4 separate regions of the Homo sapiens genome follow, and regions 1, 2 and 3 are each linked to region 4. Evidence: fine-mapped expression QTL. A gene starts in region 4. Each other region holds a variant in brackets. All regions are shown on one strand. Distances are from middle to middle.

Region 1 (8,000 bases), 1.0 Mb before region 4:
TTGCTGAGGCTGGTGAAGGTCATGATCTTGAAAGAAATCTTGGGCTCCTGAGATCCCCTCTTACAGGTGTGTGTAACCCATAAAAGAATACTAGAAGGTCTGCCCACAACTTCCTGTCCCCGCTTCTCTACTTGTTCCTCTTCCTCTCAACATTCCCAGTCTTCTCCAGCAGTCTGCAGCCGCCACATCCCTGACACACACCACTCTATCCTAGCAAGTCACACCGTGTCTTTCTGAAGCACGAATTGTAATAGAATGTGAATCTCTTCATGCTAACCCTCGACAGTGGGCTCTCCTGTCCTCCTTTCCCCTTTTTAGACAGTTTCACATCTGATTAGAACTTTCCAGTGGGTAATGGCCACAGGTTGTAGGCTTTGTTTCATAAATCCTAAAACACCTGCACAGGACTGGACACAAAGCTGACATACTGAGGGATTCCTTAAGGAACAAAAAGAGCTGCCCTAAGAAGGATCTGAATAGACATTTCTCCATAGCAGATGTACAAATAGCCAATGAAAACATGAAAACTATGTTCAACATCATTAGTCATTAGGGAAATGCAAACTAAAACTACACTGAGATACCACTTCACATTCACTAGAATGGCTATAATAAAAAGGACAGATATTAACAAGTGTTGGAGATAATACGGAGAAACTGGAACTCTCATAAACTGCTTGTAAGAATGTCAAATGGTACAGTCACTTTGGAAAACAGTCTGGGAGTTCCTCAAAAAGTGAAACATAGAGTTAACATATGACTGAGCAACTCCTAGGTATTGACCCAAGAGAATTGAAGAAATATGTCCATACAGAAACTTGTACACCAATGTTCACAGCAGCATTATTCACAATAACCAAACAGTAGAAAGAACCCATGACCATCAATGGATGAATAAAGAAACAAAATGTGGTACTGTCTAAATAATGGAATATGATTTGTCCCATGAAGGAAATGGAGTACTGATACATGTTACAGCTTGGCTGACTCTCAAAACGTTAAGAAACAAGACAAAAGCCACATACTGCATTACTCAAGTTAAATAAAGTATCAAGAACAGGCAAATTCACAGTGACAGAAAGCAGATGAGTGGCTGCCAGACTTTGGGAGGGGGTGCAGAGAGTGATTGCTAATGGGTGTGGGATCTCTTTTGGGGATAATGAAAATGTTCTGGAAGTAAAGGCGAGGGTTGCAAATATACTAAACAGGTTATAAATATACTAAAAATTACTGAATTGGGCCGGGCGCGGTGGCCCGTGCCTGTAATCCCAGCACTTTGGGAGGCTGAGGTGGGCAGATCACTTCAGGTCAGGAGTTTGAGACCAGTCTGGCCAACATGGCAAAACCCCGTCTCTACTAAAAATACAAAAATTAGCCAGGAGTGGTGGCGGGCGCCTGTAGTCCCAGCTACTCGGGAGGCTGAGGCGAGAGAATCCCTTGACCCAGGAGATAAGAGGTTGCAGTAAGCCAAGATGGCACCACCGCACTCCAGCCTGGGCAACAGAGCAAGACTTCGTCTCAAAAACAAAACAAAACAAAACAAAACAAAAAACCTAAAAACCCCACAAAATTACTGAATTGTACACTTTAAAGTGGTGAATTTTATTATTAAGATGGACTGTGAATCATTTCAATAACAATTAGAAAACAAAACAAACAGAAAAAAGGCTGCCTTGGAGCAGTGGTTCTGAAACTTGGGCATGCAGCACTCACTTGGAGAACGTGTGAAAACACAGGTTGCTGAGCCCCACCCTAGTTTCTGATTCAGTAGCTGTGGGTGGGGCTCAGGAATGTGCATCTCTAATGAGTCCCCGGGGTGCTGAAGGTCCTGTTGGTATGCAGCCACATTTTGAGAACCAGTGACCCAGAATAGAGCTTCTCCCAACTTCAGTGCATGTGGTGGACACTGTGATGAGCTACCCAGATCCCTGTCTAATGACAGACTTGCTGCTGACTGCTGGGAGTGCTGTCTGCAGTGAGTTGAAAGGCCTGGCCATCCCTGCCCACCACAGACAACTTAGAAGGCTGACCTAGCTGTGTAGCTTCCCGTGTTGTGAGTGATGACTGTCACTGGGCCTGTATTGCTGCTTGACTTCTTGCTCTACCTACCTATTCCTGTTCCTTCCTCCTCCTTCCCATAGGTATTGATCCAAAGGGCACTCCTTAATAAATACGCCACTGGCTAAACTCCATCTCAGAGTTGGATCATGGGACAACCCCACCTGTCATAATGCATATGAGAAATCTGGGGAACCTGTCGCAGATTCTGATTCTATAAATCCAGGGATGGACCTGAGGTTCAGCATTTCTAACAGGCTCCTTGGTGATACCAATGCTGCTGACCCATGGTCCACACTTTGAGTAGTGAGGGCCTAGATGACCTCAAAGTACTCCTCCAGCTCCATAATGAGGAGACTCTATGAGCCATCAGGTCGAGTGTAAAGACAGAAAGATACCACATTTACTAGGTCATTAAAAGGTACTGAGATTACCCTGTCCTTGAGATCCAGGCCATGGAACTGGGTTACAGGTGAGTGTGTTCAACACAGGCCTTTCAGGTGCTCCCTAGCTAATCCCCTTGGACAGGGGCCAAGATCAACCTGAGTTTCTTTTTTATATGCTCTATTGTTACAGTACGGCTTCAGGGAGTTACTTGGGCAGAAGTGAGTAATCTGCATTGTGCAACCAGCAGACAAGTGCTGACTGATACCCACTACACAGCCTATGCAGGGAACCAAAGACGGTGGGAAGAAAGATGAAAGGAAAAGAAAAGTAGAGGCAGGGTGGTGGCCACCATCTTTTCCAGCATGTTTGCCCTCAGACAAACCTTGCATTTTAAGAGTAGTTAGGCCTGTTCATGTCTTGTTTCCAAGTGGGATCATTTGATAAAGAGTTTGGAAATCTGTTTTTGACCCACATCTGTTCCTAATTTACTGGGAGTCCCATACCTTGTAACTCAGTTTTTCTATCTGTTCAGGCTGACTTCAGATAAATACATAGGTTACAGACTCATATTCTCAGCAGGTTACAAAAAGAAAAAAAAGGGAATTTGGAAACAAATCTTAAAGATGTTATCATAGAAGGAAACTTTCACACCATCCTACCAAACACCCACTTGTCAGAAAGAGAATCTGGGGGTAGGCTGAGCCTTAGGGTAGCCTTGGGCAACATTTCTGAGAGGACAGCAATCCTTGAGCCCCTACTCCCTCTTTTTTTAAACCTCATCTAGCTATTACAACAGCTCACAGTCAGGTGTGTGATGGACGGCAAATGCATAGGGAAAAAGGAGCGATATGAAGTTGTGATCTTTAATCAACTCTTAGGAAAAGTTAGGAAACTTGGCAATTGTGTCATTTTTGAACGTTACAAGGCTCAAATTTCCATCCGTGTTGTATCTTCAAGCTTCTGCCTGTTGTACAATTTCATGGGAAATAAAAGGAGTGAATGTCTGCTGTGCCTTGGGCAGAATACAAACAGAAAAGGAGTGGGCGCTCAATACAGTAAACCTGCACTGAGAAACCGTGGTTCTGGAAGGACACAACTTTCTACACTTTTGCTAGATTTTCATGGTAGCAATGACAAAACAGGACTAGGGGAGAGGGGAAAAACCAGGGTAGGTAAGCCCTTAAAATTCTGGACAGTGACACTCTGTACTTAGGGACCTGCAAAGCACCTGGAAGGGCTGAGACTGGGAGGCACACATACAGCAAACGTCTTTCGATACCTGCTTTTTTCTCATTAACCAAGCGGATTTATGAATAAGCTCTGCAAACTTTAAAACGCATGCAGTATTCAAGATGCAATGCCCCTTCCATGCCACTCACTGTCTCTTCTGGAGTGAAATGCAACTATAATGGTGCTCCCTGAACCCACTTGCAATATGCAAGCTCTCTAGAGAAGGTAGTCCCTGATCATCCTGTTGAAAATCTAGACCTCGTGTAAGCAAGAAAAAGAAGTCAAGGTACAGAGTGGCATAAATATTGTTACTTGAAGTGCTAATTATCTACCAGTGTATTCAAAACCTAGTGATTTCCAAACCTGCTGGAGCTTCTTATGGAAATAAATATGTGCATCCCAATGTAGGGTTAAAAGGATTCCCAGAAACCTACACCAAAAATATAAGTAATTATCCTCTGAGCAGGGATTTCTCTCCAATTTCACTGCTTCCCACAAGGGGAACAATTTCTTGAGAACATAATAGTAAAGGAAACAATACACCACCAAAGAGGAAAATAACATCTTTATAATTACAGATTAGTTCCCAAATTGCACACCTACATACTCACTCTGCTTTGAATTTGAGTAACTTCGATGAAGCTTGTCTATCCCCTTCAGCTATCAACATTTACAGCTCAACAGCTCAATCACAAGATTTTCCATACAGAAACCCCAGGCTGCAAAAGCACTCTCAAATGACCCACTCGTTTCACTCTTGAAGAATGTGGAAAACACAGCGACAGAGAGCACAAATCGGGGTTAATACCCCGGCAGGAGAGAGGGAGCTCTGGTATCTCTAAAACAGTTTCAGTGTGCCAGTTT[T/C]AGAGATTACCCAATCATTTCTAAGCCGTTCAGATTTTTATCAGACAGGAATTAGCAGCTGAAAGTCTTGCTTGGCCCAAGCTGTTACATCTCTTTATCAGGAATTCATCTAAGTTTGCATTGCTTGAGCAAGGCACTCACATTCATTTCAACTCATTGGTTACTTACCCATTAAATGGGTTTCTTAACCATCACACTGGTTATTTAATTCCTACCCCATGGCTCCCCCAAGAAATAAAAAGTGCACTATAATTATATAAACTCTTAATTAAACTGAAGAATTCAGTGTTGCCATTACCAGTCAGTAATTCCACTCAATTAGGACAATAGACTTCCATTTATTACTGAACTCCTAATTGCTACTCATTTTCCTGGTTAGTAATTGCCAATCCTATCAGACAATGTGCTTAAAGAAAATTCTGCCATGAAATTATATTTCTCTCCATCACGGGAAAGGTGGAATCAGAGTCCTTACGTGGTCAGGAGTTGGGTCCTCTTCTCTAGCTCCATGCGTCTCCAGGCTCGGGGGTTTTAAAGGCTGGTGTGCCCCAGGGTTGGCTGCTGGTGCTGCGATCCGCGGGAGACTTGCCCACAAAGGAAAGGCGTATCCAGGTAGCCAGAGAATCCCAAAGCCAAACCTAGCCGAAGAGGATGCAAAAACAAAACCACCCGAAGCGGTCTCCGCATTTCCAGAAGACTAAGTTCAAAGTCTCCAGGCAGGGCGCATTTTAGGTCTTGAGGTGTACGTCCACGTCAGGGGGCAGGTTCGGCATCTGCTGCTTCTCAGCCTCAGGAGACTCAAGACGGAAGTCCGAGGGTGGCAGCCGTGCGGTACCACGGCTGGAGCCAGCCGGCCTCTGCCTCTGCCTCCCCGGGTCTGGCTTCCGAGGTGGGTTCGCGGGCACTGGCAGGTGCCGGGGAAACTTGCCGGCACGCCGTCCGCCGCCTCTGGACGCCCGGGCAGCCCCGCACTGGAGCTGGAACGAGTCCTGGCAGCCGGCTCCGCGGGAGCTCCCGGGCGGCGATCAGACGCGAGCGATCTACCCGCGGCTCGCGGATGCCTCGGCCCAGGAGCTGCGCGCCGCCCGCCCCAGCCCCGCCCCGGCCCGCGGAGCGCCCCGGCCCGCCTCGCTCCTCATGACCGTCTCCTAATTAGCTCAGAAGACTGCAACTCGCCGGCTAGCAAAGACACCCACGGTGGGGAAACTTGACAATTTATTCCCGGGCCCGGGGGAGGTCACCTGCAGTGCACCAGCGGATTGGCTGCTGCGCGGGTTGCGGCGGCAAAGCGCGCAGGCAAAGCGCGCAGGCAGAGCGCGCGCAGCTTCTGATCCGCTCTGCCATCCCGGCAAGGCACGGGGCGGGGAGGGCCGCCCCGAAGCAGCCCGCGGCTCAGTACCGTGTGAAAGGGACGGTGTCGGTGCCGGAACCACAAAACTGCCCCACCTCTCCAGATTGGGTGGTTTGGAAGAGATGCTCTTTGCTGTTTGGGTTTTTAGACGTCACACTCTGTCTTCCAGTTGACAATGGGCTCAAGCCATTTACAGCCGGAAGATGCTCTGAATGAAGTATCTACTCCAACTTCATGTTACAGAGGAGGGAACTGAAGCAGAAAGGATGAAGGAGCTGTGAAGGTGAGTGGGTGGAAAAGCTAGGCCTGGACGCCGGGTGTCCTCATTCCTAGTCTTTCTAAAGAGACCAGCCCTGCCCTTGGGGCTGCCTTCCTTACAGAGAGCTCCACCCTCAGGGGCATTCCCAGGAATACACAGCAGTGCACCGAGAACTCTGAAACTCTGGTGTCTAGCCCACAACCCGAGAGGTCAGTAAATCAGAGAGCATTATCTCCATCGTATACATTAAGACACTTAAACATTAAGTTTCTGAACTATGCCAACATAGTTCAGAAACTCCCCCGCCCCTGAGCTAGTTAGTAGGAAACGGAGTGGGCATGCAAACTCAAGCTTCCACAATAATTCCTGAATTTCAGCCACCACACCTCAACGCTCTGCCCAAGGAGGTGCATGGAAGAGGAATTCCTGGAGGGGCTGCCTAGAAACCAGTGGCTGAGGATGACATCCTTGCAAATGGCACCAAGCCCCCTAACAGCGGTTGCTGCAGTGCCAGCTTGGGACATCCTGACCACAAAGCAGCTGGTAATAATTCTTTTTTTTTTTTCTTGAGACAGTTTCACTCTTGTTCAGGCTGGAGTGCAATGGTGCAATCTCGGCTCACTGCAGCCTCCGCCTCCCAGGTTCAAGCAATTCTTCTGCCTTAGCTTCCCAAGTAGCTGCGATTACAGGCATGTGCCACCACGCCCGACTAATTTTGTATTTTTAGTAGAGGCAGGGTTTCTCCATGTTGGTCAGGCTGGTCTTGAACTCCTGACCTCAGGTGATCCACCCGCCTCGGCCTTCCAAAGTGCTGGGATTACAGGTGTGAGCGACTGTGCCCGGCCTCAGCTAGTAATAATTCTTATTGCCCACTCCATTTTAGTGCTTGTCACATCTGCTCCTCATCAAAAGTGAACACACTCACTCACCCCCATCTCCCACTCTCGCTGAGTCTATTCTGGCCTTTGCAACCTCCGCCCATACAAATGGAGGAAACTATCAAAGTAGGAGAGAGAAAAACAGCAAGCTTCAGAGAACTCTCTCTGTGCCAGGAGAGCTGAGAGCTGCTAAGCCTCTCCCTGGTCCTTGAATACACAGAGTCTAGAAGGGCTCCCATCCTAGTTGCCTTGTGTTTGGAATTTGAATACGCAGCACTCAGCATTTGAGGCATCCTGTCACTTTCCTGAGCAGAGAGTTGAGCCAGCTCACCAATGCTATCAAATCACCGGTTCTCTCCACTAGCAGCATCCAGGAACCCAGATGTCAGAAATGTAAATTATTGGGCCCATCCCTGAGCCACTGTATCAGAAACTCTAGGGGTGGGGCCCAGCAATCTGTATTTTCAAAGCCCTGCCCCCCAACCCCAGGGGATTCTGCACACACTCAAGTTTGAGAACCACTGCTCTAAAAAGCTACTTGCCAGGGTCACCTGAAGGGGACAGAGCAAAGGTCAGGGTCAAAGTGGGCAAGTTGCACCGTGTATCAAAAAGTGCCGCCCCTCCCCTCAGCCACAGTTAGAGGCCCTCTAGGGAGAGTTTGGAAAGGAAATGAGTAGGATTGAGGCATAGTATTCTTCTTCTGACTTTGAGGATCACTGGCCTGACCCCATCCTCCTGTCATCTCAACACTTGAGGGCACAACACTGAGGGCTGCCTGGGCCAGACTGTGCAGCCCACATTATTTTGCCCTGAGCAGAATAATGTTCTATGTTCTATGATGTTCTATGACGCTGTGCTTGCGCTGCTGGCCCCTGGACTGAAGTCTCCTGCTCAGGGTCCAGGGTTCTCCTGCCTCTCTATAGAATCATTCTGGGGAAATGGGAGCTGTTCAAGTGACTGGTCCTGACTGTGG
Region 2 (8,000 bases), 980 kb before region 4:
GTATTTTTCCTTTCCTTTTCCCCTCACATTCCTATTTCTTTGGGCAACGTGGTGGGAAGGGGTAACTTAAAGCAAGAGCTCTGAACAAATATACATACTCTCCACATGCAGCCATTCAAGTCGGAGAATGCAGGCTGCTAGAGGGTCCAGTGGGAACCCACTCCGTAGGCCTCAGCCTGAAATATGGGATGCTTTGTATACTCAGCTTGACGTGGAAGGAAGGGTTGGGGCTGGGGAGAAGGGAGAGGATGTGGATGGAGGAAAGAGTGCGGGTCTGAAAAGGGCTGAGAAGACAGCCTGTGTGAGGCTTTCATAAAACCACACTGCGTTCTTTTAATGATAACGATAAAGAAAACCCCCAACTTCATAAAATTCCATTAATTCTATAATTTCCTTTCTTCGATAAGAGCAAAGAATAAAACAACTCATTACCTCTACTACCAACTAGATGTTTGACCTTGAAAAACGACTTAACATCTCTGGTTAAAAAAAAAAAAAAAAAAGTGGGTTGGGTAAGACAAGCTCTAAAATTCTGATTTTATTCTTCTGGTTGAAAGAAAACAAAACAAAATGAAACAAAACCTTACTATACATAGACTAAAGCTCAATTTTGGCCCCACCTTTGACTAAATGATGAAAAATTAGAATGGGGAATGGTAAAATAGACATTTTTACTGTGTGAACAATACAAAATGTAAAGGAATTTAGAAACAAGTCAACTACACCACATTAAAAAAATGCCTGAATTAAGATGAAATAAAAGTGATAGCAGAGTCTCTTTTATAGTCAGGGAAGGCTCCCCAAACCTTGGTGAATGGAAACATGGCTTACTAGGAACCAGGTCTGTTCTTGGTTAAGGCTAAGGTTGGATAGGGAGAAGGGGTCAGGTGGGTGAGAGTACTGTGGTGGGTAACAAACAGCATACATTTCCAAAGTGGCGTGTGCATAGTTAGTCTCTGGTTAAGAGCCCAATGAATCTCAACATTTTTTTTTCTTTGAAACAGGTTGGAGGTTGCTCAGGTTGGAATGCAGTGGTGCAATCATAGCCTAGAACTCACTGGCTTAAGCGATCCTCCCACCTCAGCCTCCTGAGTAGCCGGGACTATAGGCACATGCCATCGCACCCGGCTAATTTATTTATTTATTTATTTATTGAGACGGAGTTTCGCTCTTCTTGCCCAGGCTGGAATGCAATGGCGCAATCTCGGCTCACCACAACCTCCGCCTCCCAGTTTCAAGCAATTTTCCTGCCTCAGCCTCCCGAGTAGCTGGGATTACAGGCATGAGCCACCATGCCCGGCAAATTTTTTTGTATTTTTAGTAGAGATGGGGGTTTCACCACGTTGGTCAGGCTGGTCTCGAACTCCCGACCTCAGGTGATCTGCCCGCCTCGGCCTCCCAAAGTACTGGTATTACAAGCGTGAGCCACTACGCCCGGCCTTATTTTAAAATTTTTTTTGAAGCAAAGGAGTCTCACTGGGTTGTCCAGGCTAGCTTCAAACTCCTGGCCTCAAGTGATCCTCCTGTCTTGGCCTCCCAAAGTGCTGGGATTACAGGTATGGGCCACCACACCCAGCCTCAACTATTTTTTTGGTTACAGATTCTATTTGAAAATCTGATGAAAGCCAAGAACCATCTTCTGAGGCAAATGCACAAGCACACAAACAAAACTTTAAATACATTTTCAGCGGACTCCTGGGCTCCTTTAAAGTTCCTCTGCAAATCCTGTCGTATCTGTTAAACACAACGTAAAACTTCCTGTTCTGGGCCTAGACACTGGAACATCTATTTGTTCTTCCATTTGCCTTGAAGGTTTGTAGTGTTCCCATGTTCTCAAGAAAAAATGTCTTTTTCAATTAAAAAATAACCTGACTCTCCCTGCACACCCAAGCAATTCTGCAGGGAGTCTGGTGTGTTCAGCTCAAGAGAAAAAGGTTGACGAACAGAAGACCTGCAGCTGCAGCCCTCATGGCCTGAGCACCTCCAGAGGTGGGGCTTGTATCCTGAGGCTGAATTCGGAACTGTTTTTCCACAGGAGAGAATTCCTACCAGTAAATAAGTCTGTGTCCCCTCCTACTAGAGACTGCCCTCTTTCTGACCTACTTCATCCACCCTTTTGACCTGCCTTCCTTCCTGAAGAACTAATAGGAAACATGGTACCTGGTGAGGGGGAGGACCGGCAGGAAGCAGCCTCCTGGAATGTCAATGATGCTGGGACAAGCACACCTACCCCATTCCCATTCAGCAGGCAGCCACGCTACAGCGCAGGGCACATGTGCATAGCTGAAGGTCAGGATGAAGTCAGACTGGCTTTCAGCCCTGAAACTCCACTGTTTCAGGGTTGCAAGAGTGAAACCGTCTAGTACGTCCACTCTAATTGGCACTGGGCTACTGAATGATAAGAGACGGGAATGTGCTTTGAGGCCCAGTGCACACCACCGAGTCAGTGCTGGTTACGTTCGAAGGCACTGTGTTGTGGAGCCCCAAGTGGCTAAAATGGCTGGCTTCTAGAGGGTCTGTGTCCTGGCCTCGAAGACATCTTAGAGGCTGTCCTGCAAACGTAATCAACTTCACAGCAGCCTGCTTCTCAGAGCAGTTGGTCATCCTCTATCTTCCTGCTTCTTCCAGACTGATTATGAATCATGTTTGAAGTGGAAGGAAATGGTGGCTTAGGGGCAGATTCTCCCCGACTTCCTGCTCCAGCCAATCTCCCAACTAAATGGGTCCAAAAACCTCTCCTCAAGAAAGTGACAAACGAGGCACTAAATCAGAGGAATTGTGAATTCAATCACTTAGCCTGAATGGAGAGAGCCTTACAAGATGAATTCCATCACATTAAATAGCTTGACTCATGTCAGGAGAAAGCAGTCTACAAACCACTGGAAGGAAAGCTTGAAAAGATGGTTTATTAATTGCACCTGCTCTGTCTTATCCCTGGGCAGGGTAGGCTTGAAACCCATGTCTTCAGCATTGAAGGAGATGGAATGGAATGTTCCATGGGTAAATATGTGAACAAGATTGCCAACCTGATTTCTCATGAAATAAAGCAAATAAGGAACAGGGCAGCACCATTTTTTTTATTAGCAAATTAATTGCTTAGAAAAAAGAATCCCATTGTCTCAAGAAAAAAAGTCCTTAAGAGCCAAACTGTTCATCTCAATTTCATTTGAATTATTATTTGAAAGGATTAAGTCTGTTAAAGTGACACTTCTCAGCATTGCATACTGAGATAGCAAAGCTGCCTAACTTGATTTTTCTAAAATGTTCCTCCCTTCATCTTTTTTTTTTTTTTTTTTAGAAAAGAGAATATAAGGCTGGGCATGATGGCTCATGCCTGCAACCTCAACACTTGTGGAGGCCGAGATGGGTGGATTGCTTTAGCTCAGGAGTTTGAGACCAGCCTGGCCAACATGGTGAAACCCTGTTTCTACTAAAAAAACAAAAATTAGCCAGGTGTGGTGGCATGTGCCTGTAATCCCAACTATTCGAGAGGCTGAGGTGGGAGGATCACCTGAACCCTGGGGAGGTTGAGGCTGCAGTGAGCCATGATCGCACCACTGCACCACTCCAACCTGGGCAAAGGAGGGAGACTCTGTTTCTCAAAAAAAAAAAAAGAAAGAAAAAAAAAGAAAGAAAGGAAAGAAGAAAAGAAAAGATAATATAACTTAGGCATCTTAGACCTGTTGGTTTGGCTATAGCTAGCAACATGCTTAACCAAAGAAGGACCCAGGGAAAATGAATTTGCTGGAGAATATGTCTTACCAAAACAGTCTTAATTAAAAAAAACCAAATCATGATAATATGGCTAAGTATAAACAAGAAAAATTTGGGTAGGTCCCAGTATAGAATAGGCCTCGTTCCTCAACTATATCAGAAGTTGGGAAAAATAATGAAGAGGGGGACTGATTCTTGGTTTTGTATTTCACTTTACAGTGAACTCAATGGCAAATCTAGAAGAAGCATATTGTTTTGGTGCTCTAGTTTACTAACGTTTATAGTTGGAAGAAAAATAATTACTTCAGCAAGATGGGGTTACAAAGAGTCCTGGACTTAGAATAAAGACGTGATTTCTAGTGCCACCTCTGTCTCAGGTGATTTCATTGGTCAAAAGGGAGAAACTAGGGACAGAAAATGTGCAGCATGCACACTTCCTTGCCTTCATGCCATGCTCATGGCAGACATCACTAATCGATTTAGCCTTTGATGCCTTCATGGCCCAGAATCTTCAATACAAGCCTCCAGGCAGCCAACTAACAAACCATAGATAGCAGGACAATCGAAACTTATTTGCCATCTCTAGACTAGATGATCTTTAAGGTCCCTTTTAGCTCTAACTTTCTAGGATATCTTCTGCAAATTATTTTCATATTCTACTAGGAATCTACTGAGGACAAAACACATATGGACAAAAGGCCAGGTGCGGTGGCTCACGCCTGTAATCCCAGCACTTTGAGAGGCCGAGGCGGGCAGATCACAAGTTCAGGAGACTGAGACCATCCTAGCTAGCATGGTGAAACCCCGTCTCTACTAAAAATACAAAAAATTAGCCGGGCGTGGTGGCGGGCGCCTGTAGTCCCAGCTACTCAGGAGGCTGAGGCAGGAGAATGGCGTGAACCTGGGAGGCGGAGCTTGCAGTGAGCTGAGATCACGCCACTGCACTCCAGCCTGGGCGACAGAGCAAGACTCCATCTCAAAAAATAAAAAAAAAATAAAGAAAAAAATTAAAAAAAA[AC/C]CCAATAAAACACATATGAACAAAAATGCTTTATGATGTTGCCACAGTTGGGGAAAAAAACATAGCTTAGTAAATTGTTTTCATGTTTCAGTGATTAGAGAGTCTCCAGACAAAACACATGGTATGTTCTGAAACTAAGAAACTGTTGCCGTAGCTGTGGCTATACATCAACTGCTCATCAACCTTGTTGATCAACCCAAAATGACAATAATCTCAGACAAGCCAATGTCAATTTATCAATTAAGTAGCTAAGACTGGTAACAGGTAATGTTATGTATCACTTACATATTCCCTACACCGAAGGATTTAAGTTACCTTAAAGGACCAAAAGGATAAAGGATTTAAAGTACCTTAAAGGACCAAAAGGATTTAGGGTACCTTTAAAAGATAACAGGGAGGGGGGAGGATTTTTAAAATTATTGGTAGAAAAGAAGGAAAAATAAACCATGTGGGTATGCACAGTGGAGATGGAAATGAAGTCTGCCCATCACTTAACCACTTATTTATAACAGATGGGCCAGGAAGCTGGCTCTAGGCTTCCAGCAGCCACGGTGATGATGGGAAGCTAAGCAGTTGCACAGTTCATGGGGGTTGCAAGATAAAAGGAAAACCAACTCTTCAAAAAAGGCTCAATTATTCGTAACTCTGCAATCAGAGTGTTATTTCTCCCAAGGATCTACATAAGCAAAACAACACATAGCACACTAAATAATATTTTTTTCTACTCATTCATTCAAAAGTCCTGGCATTGGTGTCATAGGGTTATTAGAGCCTCTATCTGCAGAGCATATGGTGCTGTTCTAAACTGGAATACCAGAAAGGCTAACTCTGGTTCTCTGCTGGTTTGTCTTACTCCAGATCCTCTGGAGTAGCATTTCCCAAACTGTGTTCCAAGGGATCTATGAAATGTTCCTAGGTGTTCTGTGGTCAAAGCTGTTTGGTAAACACAGCATAATATTGCCCTCTCCACTGCTTTGCTTAATTTGATCTAATCCAACACTTTTCAAACAAAATCCTTTATCCTAGTGGCGTCTATTAATATATTACGAAAAGACTATTCCAGGAAACATTTCAGAAAATGCCAATCTAGAGAAAAAGGACTGCACTTATTCCTATTTTTGGAATCCTTCTAAAACATTGTTCCTCTAAGTGAAGTTTGGAGAGCTACCTAATGGCAGTGAGTTTGAAAGGCATTTCCTGGAAATTACACAGAAGATGTTGATTCTCGGTTGCTGGTTAGGAGTGGAAGCGTGTGTCTTAGCAGAAAGTCAAGCTGTATGTATGGACAAATCAAGACTCTAAAAGCTCTAAGTCCAACCTTCTAATTGTTTAGGTTCCACAACATCAACCCCAAAATGCAAGTGCTGATATGGGTCAATGAAAATGGAGTCTTCAAGAACAGAGCAAGGGATCACTGTGGAGGGGTGAGACTATCAGTGGGAGGAATGAGAAGTTATAAACACAGCTCAGCAGGGGCAGCAGTTGCTCTGGACCACTCGGATCCCTCTCTTTGACCCCTTTCCTTCTTAGGGAGCGCAGAGGAGGGTGGGCCACTCAGATGGGTCTCTTGTAGGCCTTGAACTTGGGGCAAGAGGGGAAACTGAGGCTCACTCACAGTCCTGCCCAGTGCACTGGTGTTGGTGATTAGGCCAGAATTTGGGACTCAAGTGCAATAAAAAATGTACATCTGCCTAGAGTCTGCTTTGGAAACCTAGGGGGTCAATTAGGGAAATGGATTCCAAGACACAACTTCTCTTGGAAACCCAACTAACAGAAGTCCTCAAATCCATGAAGCACTGACCATAAATAGGAAGAACCACCACCTGCCAACTACCTGGGGACAGCCATGCTACCTTCCAGAAGTAATTACTATGTCCCAATCTGAAATTCAGAAATCAAATATCTACCAAATATCAACAAACCAGACCCTTAATGAGAGGCAGGGCAGAATGATGTGCAAAGCTCGTTGGGTGGTATGTTTGCAGGCAGCGCAACAACCTGATGGTATCTTGCAGCAGGTTATTTCTGAAGTTCCTATGATATGCTCCTAATGGGTATAAGGATGTGCTGACTTCCAAAGTGGGACTGACAGGCCCGCAGTTAACTGTCATTCCCATCACAGACTTAATAGCTTTGCCAGGCATCCTCCCAGCAAACGAAGAGAAGAAAGGTCTTGCTATATGACAGCATTCAAAAAGAATGCATGTGAATGCCATTATGGTATTGAAAGTGTCAGGTGCCAGCAGAAGGGCCCTGATCAGACAGACAAGCATTGGGGCTGCATGCTTTAAGGTTATTTGAAGCCTGTCATTCCCATTAGCTAGCTAACCACAAGTGGAATCATTCGTTAGCTGGCTTTCTTTAGCACCAAGGTGGGGCTGAGGGTGGGGGTGGAGGTGGGAGAAGGTGGAGAGGCCTGGGCTTGGCACTTTTAGTTCCTACCCTATTAGCAACTCATGATGGCTGGCAAAGGAAGGGGGTGCACACAGGCAGGGGTGCCCCATGTGCCTGCTCATTAGTGGCTGGCAGTAAAGCACAGAAACGAGTGGACATTGGCACAGGCTGGCTTTCTGTTCCTGGAGAAGGCCAAAAATAATCTCAGTAGATTTAATTAAAACTGCAGTGAACAGATGGGGAAGATGGAAAGAACTCCAACTGGAGACCACTCATCTGTCTAGGTCTCTGCGAGCGTTTTAATAAAGCCTTCGCTGTCTGCAGGTCCCAGTCCTGACACATCCCTTTCTGGTTATGCAACCGAGCGGAACGATTACCCAGCAACTCCACTTAAAGCGGCAGGGGCCTGTTTCCCAAGGAAAAGGATGGCTTGACTCAATCCAACTACTCCTACAGTAAGGCAACAAGCCTACAAATGAACAACCTCTCTGTCCTATCTTGATCTAATCCTAAAGCGAGAACAGGTAATCAGGTGCTCAGTGAAGTTCTCCTCCTACAGAGGGCTAGTGGTGGTGGCCATGAGGGGGTCGGGGAGAAGGGAATCCAGTAGCCGTCTTGTGATTTAAACCTCTAGGTCCAGCTAAAACAAAGCAGTCCTGTTCAAATTGGGCCAGTGGTCTGCCCTAGTTAGTGGCTCCTTTCACAGTTTTCTACAGTGCAGCAAGCCAAGGGAGAATGGCAGGAGACAGTCCTAATTCACCATGAAAGTTGAAACCCAGCCTGTGTTAAAGTTAAAACCCAGCATGCATGCACTCTTTCCTGATTGACTGATTTTAATGGAAAAGCCCAAACTTCTGGTGCTAAGAGCAAAACA
Region 3 (8,208 bases), 310 kb after region 4:
AATCACTTGAACCTGGGAGGCATAGGTTGCAGTGAGCCGAGATTTCACCACTGCACTCTAGCCTGGGCAACAAGAGTGAAACTCCATCTCAAAAAAAAAAAATTATTATTTTGGGGTGGAGAGGGAAGTGGGTGGAAGCAGAGGTTGACACAAGATTGATCCGTAGTTGTGAGTTACTGATATTTGATGAGGTACATGAGGGTTCATCATGGTGATCTCTGTAAATTGTGTGTTCTTAAAATTTTCTATCTAAAATGTTAAAAAGTTATGGAGTAAAAATCCTTATCAAATTGCCTGTGGTAGTGTCTGGGTTCAGTTTTGTCTTTCCCTTTTAAAGCTCCCTAGGTGATTTTAATATGCAACCCAAATTCCAGAACCTTCTTTGATTTTCCTTAACAACCTTTCTGCACTGGGGTTTGGAACTCAGTCCCTCTAGAGAGACGCCGTCCTGGGGAGGCAACTCTCTCCCTTGTGATGGACTTCATCTCGAAACTTTTTCATTTACTTTGGTTTCAGGGTTGCAAGATCTATTTTTCTATTAGTTTTTCTAATTTCCCCAGCTGGTTTGAAACTTCAGGAAGTTAATAGCCATTTTGTATTTGGCTTATTTTGCCCTCGAGACCTCGGAGAATGCCTGCCAGTAATGAGCTGACCCATTTTTAGAAACAGGGTGTGGTTCTTAAGACTTCGCTGTCTCTTTCCTTCAAACAGGAAATGCTCATGTTCATGGGCATCTGCTTGGAAATCAGTTCAATTCAATTTTAAGATGCTAGATAGGCCAGGCGTGGTGGCTTACACCTGTAATCCCAGCACTTTGGGAGGCTGAGGCGGGAGGATTGCTTGCGACCAGGAGTTTAAGACCAGCCTGGGCAACACAGCCACTCCCTAGCTCTACAAAAACTTAAATGAAAAATTACCCAGGTGTGGTGGCACATGCCTGTAGTCCCAGCTACTCAGGAGGCTGAGGCAGGAGGATCACTTGAGCCCAGGAATTCAAGGCTGCAGTGAGCCATGATCACTCCACTGCACTTCAGCCTGGGAGAAAGAGTGAGGTTCCATTTCAAAAAAAGGAAGGAAGGAAGGAAGGAAGGATGGAAGGAAGGAAGGAAATGCACGCATGGCTGTTGGAGGGAGTTAGCAATCATTCAGGAGGAGGAAGCGAGTGTGAGAAATTCCTAAGGGGAGGCCAGGCATTGTGGCTTACATCTGTAATCCCAGCACTTTAGGAGGCCGAGGCAGGGGAATCACTTAAGGTCAGGAGTTCAAGACCGCCTGGCCAACATGGTGAAAACCCGTCTCTGCTAAAAATACAAAGATTTGCCGGGTGTGGTGGTGCATGCCTGTAGTCTCAGCTACTCAGGAGGCTGAGGCAGAAGAATCACTTGAACCCAGGAGGTGGAGGTTGCAATGAGCTGAGATTGTGCCACTGCAGTCCAGCCTGGGTGACAGAGTAAGACTCTGTCTAAAAAAAAAAAAAAAAAAAGAAAGAAAAGAAAAGAAAAAAGAGAGAAATTCCTAGGAGGCCTCTTCTTCTACCCACCTGCCTTGAGTTTTTAATCAGATCAGGGAGAGCCCTGTGGGATGCAGTTTCAAATGAGCCCCTCATGAATGGAGGGCAAGGACTGTTTGTACTGGAGCTGATGAACTCCCAGGAAGACTGTGGACCCAAGGACCACCCCTTAATCCCATGCACAAAATGCTGGACAAGAACAGAACTTCCCCAGAGTGGGACAAGAATGTTGGGTCTATCAGCTCCGTCTAGCAACACTGGTTGGGTGCAACCTACACAGTCGCACAGGGTCAGGCACTTGGTTGATGCTCTGCTATCGCTGTCTTGAAATTCGTAATCATTTTTAAATAAGAGGTCCTACATTTTCATTTTGCACTGGCTCCCTGCCAATTTTGTCCTGTTGAGAGGAATGATTTTGAATGTGATGTTGTGGGGAGGGTCAAACCATCTCTTGATTCAGGCCCAAAAGATCTGGTAACTTGGAAGCCTAGGGGTGTATTAAACAAAATTTTCTTTCTTTTTCTTTTTCCTTTTTTTTTTTTTTTTTTTTTGAGAAGGACTTTCACTCTTGTTGCCCGGGCCGGAGTGCAATGACACGATTTCAGCTCACCGCAACCTCCACCTCCTGGGTTCAAGCGATTCTCCTGCCTCAGCTTCCCAAGTAGCTGGGATTACAGGTGTGCACCACCACGCTCGGCTAATTTTTGTATTTTTAGTAGAGATGGGGTTTCATCATGTTGGCCAGGCTGGTCTCGAACTCCTGCCCTCAAGTGATCTGATTGCCTCGGCCTCCCAAAGTGTTGGGATTTCAGGCGTGAGCCACTGCACCTGGCCCTTCATTTTCAAATATGCTGAATAATAGGATTTAATTAAAAGGGACATGATTGAACATCAACATAGTAGCCAAAATAGCCTCTGAAAAATTATTTTACAGCAGCAGTTCTCCAAGTGAGGTCCCTGGACCAGCAACAATCAGCATTATCCAGAAAATGTGAATTCTCAGGCCCTACCCAGATCTGTGGAAGCAGAAACTCTTGGGGTAGAGCTTAACAATCTGTGGGTTAAGAAGTCCTCTGGGTAATTCAAATGCATGGTAAGGCACCTCCCCTTGCACATTAAACCCTGTTGAATTATGAATTGATCTGACACCCTCCCACATGTGAGAACCTGACTGTTTACAAAGGAAGAGCTTTCCCACCCCCTGGCTCATCTGACTGTTTACAAAGGAAGAGCTTTCTCACCCCTGGCTCATTTGTTGTGATTGACACCTGGGCCACCACACAGCCCTCTTAGCTACTTCTTATTGTTCCCAGTCTTTAAAATCTACCTCATGGAGTTTTCATCAAGTTACAATTCCACCTAGCAGAAGATTACAGGAGAAGAAGTAGAGTAAGAAATGCAAATGGGAGAGCTTCATGTGAAAAAGGACAAAAGATGGAGGGGATATTTGGTTGATTTTTGCCAGCTATTGCAGTCTCTTTCTCATTTATCTATCATATCTATGTATCTATCCATGTATGTATATATGTATCATCTATCTATCATCTATCTATCTATCTATCTATCTATCTATCTATCTATCTATCTATCTATATTAGTCTGTCCTCAAGCTGCTATGAAGAAATGCCCGAGACTGGTTAATTTATAAAGAAAAGAAGATTAATTGACTTACAGCTCCACATGGCTGGGGAGGCCTCAGGAAACTTACAATCATGGTGGAAGGCACCTCTTCACAGGGCGGCAGGAGAGAGAATGAGTGAAAGCAGGGGAAATGCAAGATGCTTATAAAACCATCAGATCTTGTGAGACTCACTCATTGTCACGAGAACAGCATGGGGAAAGCTGCCCCCATGATTCAATTACCTCCACCTGGTCCTGCCCTTGACATGTGGAGATTATGGGAATTACACTTCAAAGTGAGATTTGGGTGGGGACACAGAGCCAAATCATCTCTCTATCTGTCTCTAT[C/ATATC]TATCTATCTATCTATCTATCTATCTATCTATCTATCTATCATCTATTTATCTATCTGTATATCATCTATCTATTATCTATCATCTATCTGTGTTTGTCTACCTTTCTTCTATTTATGTAACTATCCTCGTGTATGACCTTCTGTCAGTCTGTCTGTCCCTCTGTGTACCTGTCTCTTTGACCGTCTACCTATATGTCTGTATGTGTATCTATTCATGTATTTGCATTTTGTTTTTTTGAGACAGAGTCTCACTCTGTTGCTCAGGCTAGGCTGGAGTACACTGGTGCGATCTTGGCTCACTGCAACCTCCGCCTCCCAGGTTCAAATCATTTTCCTGAGTAGCTGGGATTACAGGCATGCACCACCACGCCCGGATAATGTTTATATTTTTAGTAGAGATGGGGTTTTGCCATGTTGGCTAAGCTGGTCTTAAACTCCTGAACTCAGGGTGATCCGTCCCCCTCAGCCTCCCAAAGTGCTGGGATTACAGGCGTGAGCCACTGCACCCAGCGTACATATTTTTTTTAACTGAGATGAAGGATAATGGAGAGTGAAAAGGAAGGGAAAGAGGGGGAAAAGGACTTGAGTAAAATTTGTAACCTCTAGGAGCCTCAGATTCTTCAGATGTCAAAGAAGCATGTGTGTGAGTGGGGGTGAGCGAGTACAGATGTTGTTGTGTGTGTGTGTAAAACTGTCATTTCACAAGATTCTCATCAGGCTTTGGTGAGTACATTTGTTCCAACAAATCTTCTGACCCACACACAACGTGGTCAGTTAATGGGAATAGCAGTTGAGCCTGAAAGGGGAAGGAATGGGGGACAGGAGGGGAAGGAGGGGACTGTGAGGTGCAAGCTGATCAAGAGGGAGGAGGTGGAGAAGGCAGGAGAAAAGCGCATTGCAGGAAAGACAATTGCAGAGAAGAAGATTGCAGGTTCAGGGCCAGGCTGAGGTGGCGGGAGCAGGTTAAGTCAAATGATTACAGACGGTGAAAGGGGAGTCGAAGGTGGAAGAGCCTAGAGGTGTTCTAATAAAGACATGCCAGAAATAAGGGGGAAAAGCACTTTTTATGGCAGCAGCCAAAGAACCTAAATGAACATGTCTTTAAATGAATTGCTGTTGATGTTTCATGAGCCAAAATGTGCCAAGACTGCCTGGGGATGCTTCTCCCACCACTTTCCCACCCACTCCTGACCAAGTCGTGAAAATATATACCTGCTTCTCTCTCCAAGTCGTTCTGCCAACTAATTATCTGTAAAGATTCAAATCATGAACTGAAACACCACAGCTTTTTATGGGCACTAGGGGAGTATTAAATAGGGAGATTGGAAGCAAAATTAAAGTTCCCCCAATAGATTTTGTGGGGGGATTGATAAAAATCTGCTTTTAATTAAAAATATAAAGAAACAAGACCTCCTATGCATAAACAGGGAAGTCTTTGGGGCCTGGTCCCATGGGCAAATGCTGACAGATGCCTACTGGGATTTCGGCCTCTGCTGCCTGGTTTGTGGGCCTCCGGGAGGAGTGATTGATGGGCTGGCTGGATTTTCGGCTGAGAGGCCTCGCTAATAGATACACGAAAACAGAGGCTGTAATGCAGCTCACAAGATGAAGTAATGCGCTTGCCTCTGTCTAGGTGGGGAATTCAGCCAAGCCCTGTGTTTTAAAGAAAATGAGGCTTTTGTGGTTCTTGGCATGGGCTCACCAGTGCAGGCTAACCTTGGCACCCGTGTGCTAGGCTTTCTCTAGCATGTGGCTGCGGGATTGACATGGGCTCAGAGACTATCCAAGGGCAAGGATACTGGGTTCTGGGGACTTTCCACCTCCAAGCCTGTTCCTGTGTCATCAAAGGCATGGCGATCTACTTAGTTGCTCAAGCTCAAAAGCTAGGAATCAGCTTTCATTCTTCCCAAATCGCAAATGTATCTTAAATCTGTTCATTTTTCTCTGTTTTTCATTGCTACCACCCTATGTCCACCACCAACATCTCCTACCTGAATTCTATAAAGACCTCTCAATTAATCTGTTATTTCCATTGCTCACCCCTCCCCAATCCACCTTCCTGCTAAAGTCCAAATAATTCTTTTTTTGTGCAATCCTCGGCAGGAAATACATTACAGCCCAGTGCTTCCTACAGGAACTGAAAAACCAGATGGCCTGGATTTGAATTCCGGCTTCCACCTCCTACAGGCTCTGTGAGCTTGGCAAGCTCCTTAACCTCCCTGTGCCTCAGTTTCCTCGGCTGTAAGATGGGGACAATGGTACCTACCTCACACAAATTTTTGAGAATTGATTTGGTGTAAATAAAGTACTTATAACAATACCTGATAGTTAATGTTAATTTACTATACATATAAGTCTTAGTAAACATATGCACCTTGCTATAAATACAATGGCTAGCTATTATTTTGCTTATTATTCTCATCAACTTCCCCTTACTTTTATTTTTATTTATTTATTTATTTTAGAGACAAGGTCTTGCTCTGTGGCCCAGGCTAGAGTGCAGTGGTGTGATCATAGCTCACTGCAGCCTCGAACTCCTGGACTCAAGTGATCCTCTCACCTCAGCCTCTAGAGTACCTGAGACTACAGGCATGTGCCACCATGCCCAGCTAATTTATTATTTTTTTTTTTTTGTAAACACAGGGTCTCACTATGTTGCCCAGGCTGGTCTCAAACTCCTAGCCTCAAGTGATCCTCCCATCTTGGCCTCTCAAAGTGTTGGGATTATAGGTGGGAGCCACTGCGCCAGGCTCCCCTTGCTTTTAGACAATCCCAGACTTCTCTGCATGACTCCAAGGCCATGCATCATGTGGGTTCCACTGGTGTCTCCAATCCCTGGTTCTCTCACTCACTGTGCTCCAGCCACACTGGCCTCTCTGTTCCTCAGAGCAGGATAAGGAGCAAGACTAGACTGATGATTGAGAGCTGGTGTCCTTGTCTGCAGGAGGAGGGTCCCCAGGGTAGGGCAAGTAGAGAGGAAATGGGCTCACCTATTGCTGACTAGAGGGGATGTGAGGCCAGGGATCCTGGTGAGCTCTGAACTCCCCTTCATCGTGATTATACCTCACAGGGTCCATGACTGTGGTTTAGACCTAAAAATGCAAACGGAGGGCTGGGCAAGATGGCTCACACCTGTATAATTCCAGTGTTTTGGGAGGCTGAGGTGGGAGGATCGCTTGAGCCCAGGCATTGACGATCAGCCTGGGCAACGTAGTGAGACCTCGTCTCTAAATAAATTTTTAAAAATTAGCCAGGTGTGGTGGTATACGCCTGTATTCCTAGCTACTTGGGAGACTGAGGTGGGAGGATTGCTTGAGCCCAGGAGTTGGAGGCTGCAGTAAGCTATGATTGCACCACTGCACTCCAGCTTGGGTGACACAGAAAGACCCTGTCTCTAAGAATAAAAATTCAAGCAGGAAGAATGAGATCATAGCAAACACTGGTTTTTCCAGGGCTGCTGTCATCAAGAACGTGAACTGGATCTGATTGTGGAGCTTTTCCCTTCAGTAAGCAATAATTAAACGCCTATGATGCACAAAGCATCAGCTAGGGCTGAAGACATATATCCCATCCATTCACACATTTATTCATTAGTCCACAAATACTTACTGAGCATCTTCTATGCATCAGGTACCAGTTTAGGTGCTTGGGTGTATTAGTCTGCTCTCATGCTGCTGATAAAGACATACCTGAGACTGGGTAATTTATAAAGAAAAAGAGGTTTAATGGACTCACAGTTCTACATGGCTGGGGAGGCTTCACAATCATGGCAGAAGGTGAAAGGCATGTCTCACATGGCGGCAGGCAAGAGAGAGCTTGTGCAGGGAAACTCCCCTTTATAAAACCATCAGATCTCTTGAGACTTGTTCACTACCATGAGAACAGTATGGGAAAGACCCATCCCCATGATTCAATTACCTTCCATTGGGCCCTTCCCATGACACATGGGAATTACAGGAGCTACAATTCAACATGAGATTTGGGTGGGGACACAGCGAAAACATATCATTGGAATATGTCTGTGAGCAAAATAAAGATTCCCATTCACAAGGAGCTTACTGAGTTAGTGGAGAGAGAATAAATCTCCACTTAAAACAATAAGTATAAATATAATACATTTTTATAATATGATAAATGTAATAAAGATATATTATTTAATATATAATATAAAATACAATACATATAGTAAATAAATTCATGTATAACAAATTATTCTGGGTAACATAAAAAGCACAGGAGGGTAACAGGAGTACAGGGGTGAGGTGCAGTTTTAAATATGGTAGACAAGCTAGGCCTTGCTTAGAAAGTGACATTTGAGGAAAGCCTAAATGGAGGTGAGTGAGTGATCCAGGCTGCTCTATGGTGGAAGAGATTTAGGCAGATCCACCAGCCTTTACAAAGGCTTTATCCCCCTAAAGGTTTATTGAAAATCACTGACATAAGGCAGATTGATTACTAGGAGAAAAGGCATACAAATTTATTTAACATGTATACACAAGGGCCTTCAGAATAAAGACCCAACACCCCAGTGAGTTACAGAAGATTGTATGCCATCTTGGCAGGGCACAATGGCTCATGCTTGTAATCCTAGCACTTTGGGAGGCCCAGGCAGGAGGATTGCTTGAGGTCAGGAGTTGAAGACCAGAAGCTTATAGACCATTTTGAGGTTACAGAAAGAATGGAGGCCTGGATCCTGGTAAAACAGGTTATGGAAAAGGAGCAGGGAGAA
Region 4 (8,172 bases):
ACACACACATATATATATATATATATATACACACACACATATATCCCTACTTGTCCTCCAAAAATGTTCGTGGGAATCCAGTGGCCCCTCTTGATTGCTGAGCTCAGGATAACCATGCAGAAAGCAGAACCACTTGTAACCAGCTCTTACAAGTACTTTCCAAAACAACCACAGACAGCAATGATGAACCAAATTCCAAGCAGCATGTTCTAATAGGAACATGCTGCCATTTCAACTCCTATTTTAAAACAAGAGAGAGAGACAGAAAGAGGTCACACTGTATGGTAACCACCACCCACCTTGGCAAACTTAAAGCCACAGTTGGAATTATTCTAATAAGTGGTGAACCTCAACACTCAAAATTTTGGCCAATAAAGCACCAATTCTAGAACCAGAGAGTAACTGATTCAATCACTAACATCAAAATCTACGACCACCACCAATACCACCAACATCACCATCACCACCACCTGCACCACCACCACCACCACCAATACCTCCCTTACTCCCAACCACTGGCCACCATCCACCACCATCACCACCAGCAGCCCAAACCAAAAGCAGTTCACACAGAAAAGGACAACACTGATAGGAAGCCTTCCTTTGAAAAAAATATTTAAAGCTGACACCCAAACACATAAACAGAACCAGCAATCTAAACCTGTACAGTTACCGTATGTGAGATTTAAGCTGTCATTAACAAAGCTTGCATCTGAGCATGTGAAACAATACCATAATAACGCAAAAAAAAAAATGGAAAGGGAAAAGTTTCCTTCAGGAACCTCAAACCATCACATCAGGTGCATGAAACACTATAAGCCAACTATAAACCGTATCTTGGTTTTGTGCTTAAGAAAGGTGGACCAACTCTGCAGAATCTCAAAGCCTTCTGTGTGTGTGTGCATGGTGTGTGGGGGGTGGGGACAGGGAGGTGGGGGAGGAAATTAGGCGGTTAAATTTATAGAGGCCAATGACCAATACCACACCAAAGGAGACAGGTCCAGGCAAAGACAGTTTCCCCCCAACCCTGGACAGTCTCCCCCTCCCTCCCTTTTCCCTTTCCCCCTACCCTAGGAGCCAGTTGGCTGGAAGGAAAATGTGCATTTGAAAATCAACGCTGCAGGTGCCCAAGGAATAAAGAAAGACACACACATAGACACACACAAAGCCAATCACTTAGAAAGAAAAAAAAGAAAACACAAAAAAGGAAAGGGAGAGGGACAATTGGTGACAAGCCCTTCAGATAGCAGCTAGGATTTTATTCTTCCCTCCCACCAGTCTTCCCTGGTGTACCTTTTTCTGTCCTTTAACTAAATTGCTCATGTACACACACACATGTGCCTATGTATGTGTATAGATAATATTATAATTAACCCTTTCTGTAACAGAACCCCATACAGAATACAGAGAGCTATTCCACCCTTCCCTCTTCTCTCCCCTCCTCCCTCCTTTCTCCCAACCAGGAGAAAACGCCCCCTTCCCCAGCTTCACCAAAAAAAAAAAAAAAAAAAGAATATGGGGGGGTAATGGGGGGAGGCGCAAAGAAATCACAAAACCCCATCAGTCTCCAGTCCCGAGGACACCCGGGAAAGGTATATACTACACAGACACACACACACACACACACACACACACACACACGAACATATGACTCTGTAGAAAGCACACAGAACCGTCCACAGGCGCCCCAAACCCAGCAAAGAGACTTCCACCAGCCAAGAAGCCATGATTGGGGAGGGAGAGGAGGAAGGAGTGGGGGCAGAGCTCTCTGTGGAGAGGGGGCGCATTGTTGTGATGCCCGAACCCCTTTCTTTCTGCCCATCTGCTGTGGAGGGGGTGCAGGGAGGGGGCGCAGGGGAAAGGCGAGCGAGGAAACGAGACCAGGCACGGCTTTGCGACTCCCTCCTGCTGCCTGTCTGCCCGCGCCCCCAGCTCCCCCCACCAACAATAAGACCTCAGCCTAGACAGACAGACAGACAGACAGACAGACAGACAGCCCGGAGCGCGGCGAGGGAGGCAGGAGAGCCGGGCGCAGCCGAGTGGGGTCGTGCATAAAGGGAACCCGGGGGAAGGGGGGTCCCCCTTACCTCCAGCGCTTCAAAAGTGACAAAGCTGGTCATGGCAAATCCATCAATGATGTCCTCTTCTGCCGAGGTGGACTCTCTCCGCTTCCTCCGCGGGGGTCTGGGCCGGGACGGGGCGGAGGACGGGGGCTTCCCATTGTCTTCCTTGTCGGAGCCCGACGACGAGGCGAGTGAGAGCGCCCGGGTCCGGCCAGCCCCGCCGCCGCCGGCCGCGCCGGCCCCCAGCCCGCCCCGGGAGCGCCTCTCCCGGTCTCGCTGCGACCGCGACCGCCGCTTTTTGCGGAGTCCATGGCCCCGCGTCGGGCCATCCATGGTTCTGCTGCGCCGGGGTCTCCCCGCTTGCCCGCCACAGGCTACGGCCGCAGCCACACAAAAAAAAATTGACACCGAGCCCTCCCTCCCCCTTCACGGCTTCCCTCCGCCCCGAGGAGGGCGCGGGGGAGACGGCGGCCGAAAGAAGGGAGAGAGGGGAAGAAAGAGAGGAGAAAGAAAAGGGGGAAGGGGCGGAGAGAGGGGAGGAGGGACGGGGAGCGAGGGCGAGAGGCGAGGAGCCCAAGTGTGGGGCTCCCCACAGCACCGAGGGTCGGAGATGCCTGGGAGCAGCGCCGAGCAAAGTAATGGCTGAACACACAGGTCTCCTTTAGAGGAAAAAAAAATAACTCACCAAGCAAGCAATAAATCAGAATAGCGGAATGCTTTGATCAAGAGACTGGGAGGCTCCGGGGAGCCCTCCCCGCGGCCATTCTCCGCCGCGCCCCCCGCCCCCCGAAAACGCCCGCGCCCCCCTCAACTCGATCCAAAATCGGGTCCGAAAAAGGTCGCGGGAAAAGTGGGGGCAATGAACTTCACCCGCCCCTCGCGCAGGAAAACACCCCCGCCGCCTCTCACACACGCCTCGGAGAAAACTCACTCCCAGGCTCCCAAATTTTTAAGAAATGCAGCCAGGGGAGGCCGGGGCTCCGGAGCGACCCAAGAGGGGCGAGACCCCCCAGAGAGGGGAGCATAATAATGCAATCATTAGCGGAAGAGAGGGCGAAACTGCGAGCGGCGGAGGAGAAGGGAGGCGGAGGAAGGGAAGGAGGATGCTGCTGGAGCAGTTGTGGGGTTTGCTTTTCGGTCTTCGAGGGGGGAGGAGAGGGAGATGAAAGAAGAGAAGAAGCAAACCCTGTCGCTGCCACCCGCCCCCCTCCTCACAAAAATATTTTTTCCAGTCCCAGAGAAGAGGTCACCCTTCCTCAAAAAAGGGAGGGGGTGAGTCAGTCAGTCGATGAGGAAAGCAGAAAGAAATCTCCAGCGGGAGAGACACCGGTGTGCCGCCGCCGCCGCCGCCGCTTCTCTCGCCGCCCCGCCTGAGGGAGAAGCGCAGCCGGGAACGCTGCTCTCGCCGCCGCCGCTAACGCTGCTGCTGCTGCCGCCGCCGCCGCCGAGAAAGCCCCGAGCCGGAGGGTGCACGGCGTGTCCCCGGGCGGCTGCAGCGGGAGCCCGGGCACTGCCCCATCCTCCGCCCGCCCGCCTGCCTCGCGCAGCTCCCGCTCCTCCCCCTCCGCGGCCAGCCCACCGCCGCCGCCGCCGCCGCCGCCCGCCTCAGCCCAACCCCGCGCCCGCCCGCTCGCTCGCTCGCTCGCTCGCTCGTTCGTGCTTTCGCTCGCTCGCTCGAGTGCGCGCGCTCCCGCGCACCCGCCCTCCCCGCGCCTCTCTCGGCGCGCGCTCCCGCCCCCGCGGCCCCGGCCGGCGGGATCACGTGGACGGCTGGGCTCCCTCCTCCCCCGCCCCCTCCCCAGTTGTAGAGTGTGTAGAAAGCAAAAGGCTGGGGGCTGGCCGCGCTCGCGAGCCCAGGGCATGCGCGCTGGGGCGGCCGGGCCTGCGCACTGGGGGCGGTGGGGAGCTGTGAGGGGGGCGGGGGCGGGGGCGTGGAGGGGGCGCCCGCGTGGGGTCGGCCGCGGCCGGGCAGAGTTGGCGCGCCAGGGCGTGGAAGCCGCCGGAGGATCCCGCCTGTCGCAGCGGGGACGCGTGTGGGCCCCTGCTCCCAGGCCACTTCGCGCGCGCGCCCCCCACATCCTCCTCGGGACACTTGTCCCTGGATCCTCTACCCCTGGCCGGCCCGAGGCCGCCTTCTCGGGAAGCCCCACCAGCCCCCAAGGGTGTTTTCCCTTGGCTACCTGCGCTGCGAGGAGAGAAGGGAATTCAGAGAAGGGGTACAAGGGGGGCGTCCCTGGGAGGGGGCGCGACTGGAGGAGACAGAACGGGGAGCGGGTGCCAAAGCGCGGGCCTTTGCTCCGCCTGGGCGCAGTGGGAGCACCAACTGGCAGAGTTGGAAACTTTTCCTCCACGTGGCACCACAGTGCGTGGACGAGCGACCCCGCGCCCGGATGACCCCTGGGATTCCCGCCTCGTCTTCCAGCGGGGGACCTAGGGACGCACGGGCGGCTTCAGATCCGGGAGCGCGAGGCCTAACAGCCGGGGGCCGAACTTGAACCTCGGAGGCGGCCGCGGGCGAGGGGCGGGGCCGAAGGGGCCGGGACCGCCGCCCCAGCTCGAGGACCCGTTAGACCGGCAAACCGCAGTCCCTGCCCCGCGGGCTTCCTTTACTTTTTGGGAGTGGGGGGCGGTTTCCCTGCTTTTTCCACCACAGCCCCTCCTCCCGCCGCAATGTGGCTGATGCTCATAAAAAGTTGTATTAAAGAGCTGACTGCAGCCGAGAATCGATCAACAAAAGCGACCAGCCTCTCTGGGTAAAATAGCTGTGCGTTTTTCAGGGCACTGGAATTGATCTATACGGATCAGAAAGACCGACAGCCCGCTCTCAGCAGCCTCTTGGATACGCTTCACTTTCTGTCCAGGCACATAAACACCACGGCACCAACCCTTCGTCCTCCCTAGTAGCCCATACTTGTGGAGGAAGAAAAGGAAAATAAACTGGCATGTATTAATTACAATGGGCCAGGCACCGTGCTAGAGCGCTGTGTATATGATTTCACCTCTTTAGAATACAAATGTGCACATTTTATTAGTATTACTGGAAGGAGGGTGGTAGAGAAAACAGTAAGGACGTGTTTTCTCTCACAATCTGACACATCTATGATTGAGTGATTGATTGTTTTTCATTTAACAATTATTAGGCCTTACCAGGCTTAGCAGGCACAGTTGTAGGTGCTGGGAATACAGCGTTGTACAAAACAGAAAAGATACTGCTTCTTGACGTTCTAGCAGGCAAGCCTCTCTCGTCTTATAATTCCTAATAACAATTTAATAGCTTGTCTTTCTCTTGTTTTAGGTCACACTCCTTCAGCTTCCCCGTTTCTGAATCCCAGGTCTGGATCTTTATGAAATCAGATGGAGAGATGGGGTTGGGGGGACGGGGGGGTCAAGTTGCCAGGAACAGAAAGGAACATCCACCCGACTGTGACAGATGAGCTTTATGCCAGTCCAGGAAACAAAACATTTGACCTTAGGCAAGACTTTTTTAAATGACTAGTTTTTTCATCTGTAAATCAAAGAGGTTCAATTAAATGTTCAAAATGTTCCTTTTCAGGTCTATCCACGGCCTTCTCAACAGATGACTTCAAGTTGATTTCGTGCTTTATTTCTTAAGAATAGTGACTAACCTAAGGGATCTGATTCAATTTATTAGGAACACAGTGCCACCTTCCAAAATTACTTACCTAAGAGGACTGAGCCTGCTGTCCCTGGAGCAGTTAGCTAAAACAGTGCCTCAGTACGGAGCGTACCTGTGTTAACTTCTAGAGTGCTGTTTCCGGCAGCTGCTGAAATCCACGCTGAGGTTATCAAGCTCATCCTACAAAATAAAGCAAGTTCTTCGCAATTTAAAGCAAAAATCTGGGCTTATTTTTAGGGTTTTGGGGGATGTGAAAGTTGTCTTAGATAAGATTCCAGGAAAGCTAAGAACTAACGATGCAATTACAGTCACCTTTCAACAACTTTGGGGATTGGGTTGAGGAAGGTGTGAAATTGGGAAATATAATAAAAGGTATTATATTAGTGACTTTCTAGAGTAGCCCTTGGCAGTCCTGTCTTTAAAGAGTAATAACTGGAAAAAAAAATGAATGATAATACACTGCATCCAAGAACCTTGCCTCTGGTGAGGGTAATTTGCAAACGCATTTTGGGATAATGTTCAGCATTCAATATAATCTTCCCTGGAATTAGCAATGCCTTTTGGGTCAGAGTTTCTTAGGTTTCTTCAGTCATACAATTAAAATTGTTTCTGGATTATATTGCCCATATTTGTTTCTAATTCTCCATTTTGCCTGTGTTTTAACTGCTAGCGATTAATAACTGCCATATAATAAGCTAAGCATTTATTATGTTTCAGGCACTGTTCTAACTGCATTAAAATAATATCTCATTTAATTCTCATAAATTTTGAGAAAAGTTTTATTATTCCTATTTTACAGTTGAGTAAACTGAGGCTTAAAGTTAAGCATATTGTCCAAGGTGCCTCCACTCCTTAGTCATAAGCTAAATTTGATCTGAGTGACTCCAAAACCTGTTCTCTTAATGGTTATGCTGAAATGCCCTTCTTAGAATGATTCCTCAGGAAGTCAAATGCTAGGTATATAGTACAACCACTTTGGAAAACTGGCAATATCTGTTAAAGTTAAACATATGAAAACCCTATGGCCCAGCAGTTCCACGCTTAGGAATATACCAATGTCCCATGTGTGCCAAAAGACTATTAAATCACTCAGAGCAACCCTATTCATAAATAACCCCCAACCAGGAAACAACCCAAATGGTCATAAACAGTAAAATAGATAAATAATTGGTGGTATATTCATACAACAGAGTACATTCTACCACACTAAGAATGAACAATCTGCTTCCAAATGCAGTAAAATATATGAACCTTACAAATGTGCTAAGTGAAAAAAGGGAGATGTACAATTGCGGGACTCCATTTATGTGAAGTACAGAAACAGACAAAAGTCATTGATGCTATTCAAAGTCAGGATAGTGGTTACCCTTGAGAGAGAGCTGATGACTAGGAGAGAACACCAATCGGCTTCTGGGGAGCTGGTAGTGTTGTTTCTTGAGCTGGGTACTGGTGTGTTCAGTTTGTGAAAATTCATTGAGCTGTACTATTGATATATGCATCTCTGTGTATGTAAATTATGCTTCAATAAAAAGCTTTAAAATGCTGTGTATATATAAATGCATATGAGTATTGCTTGTGTACATATGAGTACCTATATAATACTTCGTTTTTTTTTATTATTAATGACACTACCCAATGCTTATGAATAGTAAAATAGATAAATAAGATGTGGTTTATTTGGGACATAAATGAAGCTGGAAGCCATCATTCTCAGCAAACTAACACAGGAACAGAAAATCAAACACCGCATGTTCTCACTCATAAGTGGGAGTTGAACAATGAGAACACATGGACACAGGGAGGGGAACATCACACACTGGGGCCTGTTGAGGGGTGGGGGGCAAGGGGAGGGAGAGCATTAGGACAAATACCTAATGCTTGCGCAGCTTAAAACCTAGATGATGGGTTGACAGGTGCAGCAAACCATCATGGCACATGTATACCTATGTAACAAACCTGCACGTTCTGGACATGCATCCCAGAACTTAAAATAAAAAAAAAAAAAAAAGATGTGGTTTATTCATACAATACTATTTGCCAAATTTGTGCCCACTCTTAGTCATCACCTCCCTATCAAGGGTAACCACTATCCTGACTTTTAATAGCATAAATGATTTTTGTCTGTTTTTGTACTTCATATAAATGGAATCCTACAATACATTTGCTGTACAATGGAATACCATATAGTAAACCAAGATGAATTATATAGCATATTATCAGATTTCTTACTGGGTAGCATGAAAGTTAAAGCTTAAACTTGAAATGGCCAGTATGAATGAACTCATAATTCATACCAGCAAAAGCTTAGGTGAATTCTTTGCCCAAAAGATTATAGTTGATAAAGAGTAAAGCTAAAGAAATAATTCCAAAATAGGTTGCTTGTATAGTAGGGAAAACAGTCAAGTGGTTCTGGAAAATACAAAGGGAAAAAGTTACATCTGTGTTCAGGAATAAACTACTTAACTCAGGAGA

Alleles and levels. Positions count from the first base shown, and alleles are read on the strand shown. Sizes are in standard deviations (SD) of each study's normalised expression. Not every link is listed here.
As copies of T replace C in region 1, the expression in unexposed skin of the gene that starts at base 3,575 in region 4 goes down (small effect, 0.18 SD a copy in GTEx).

The links.
Region 1: its variant is fine-mapped to the expression of AUTS2 in unexposed skin (GTEx, PIP 0.95).
Region 2: its variant is fine-mapped to the expression of AUTS2 in whole blood (INTERVAL, PIP 0.93).
Region 3: its variant is fine-mapped to the expression of AUTS2 in whole blood (INTERVAL, PIP 0.98).

The regions. Positions count from the first base shown.
Region 1 is chr7:70,593,814-70,601,813 of GRCh38, reverse strand. All of the region lies in intron 5 of AUTS2 (activator of transcription and developmental regulator AUTS2), which reads right to left. It overlaps LOC124901668 (a long non-coding RNA gene), which reads left to right and starts at 6,266. Exons shown (of 2, transcript XR_007060375.1): 1 at 6,266-6,692. RefSeq lists a silencer at 5,459-5,658 and an enhancer at 5,228-5,729. The variant T/C (reference allele first, on the strand shown) is at 4,540.
Region 2 is chr7:70,574,541-70,582,540 of GRCh38, reverse strand. All of the region lies in intron 5 of AUTS2 (activator of transcription and developmental regulator AUTS2), which reads right to left. Among named protein-coding and RNA genes, the nearest start is that of GALNT17, 550 kb to the left of the region's middle. The variant AC/C (reference allele first, on the strand shown) is at 4,732.
Region 3 is chr7:69,280,545-69,288,752 of GRCh38, reverse strand. LOC105375345 (a long non-coding RNA gene) reads left to right here. Exons shown (of 4, transcript XR_927650.3): 3 at 2,445-2,603; 4 at 5,583-5,799. Among named protein-coding and RNA genes, the nearest start is that of CT66, 310 kb to the left of the region's middle. The variant C/ATATC (reference allele first, on the strand shown) is at 3,479.
Region 4 is chr7:69,593,878-69,602,049 of GRCh38, reverse strand. It overlaps AUTS2 (activator of transcription and developmental regulator AUTS2), which reads right to left and starts at 3,575. Exons shown (of 19, transcript NM_015570.4): 1 at 2,088-3,575. The coding sequence starts at 2,396. It overlaps CT66 (cancer/testis associated transcript 66), which reads left to right and starts at 4,426. Exons shown (of 3, transcript NR_148927.1): 1 at 4,426-5,003; 2 at 5,359-5,395; 3 at 5,617-7,246. RefSeq lists silencers at 2,262-2,331, 3,496-3,575, 3,596-4,015 and enhancers at 3,096-3,145, 4,326-4,405.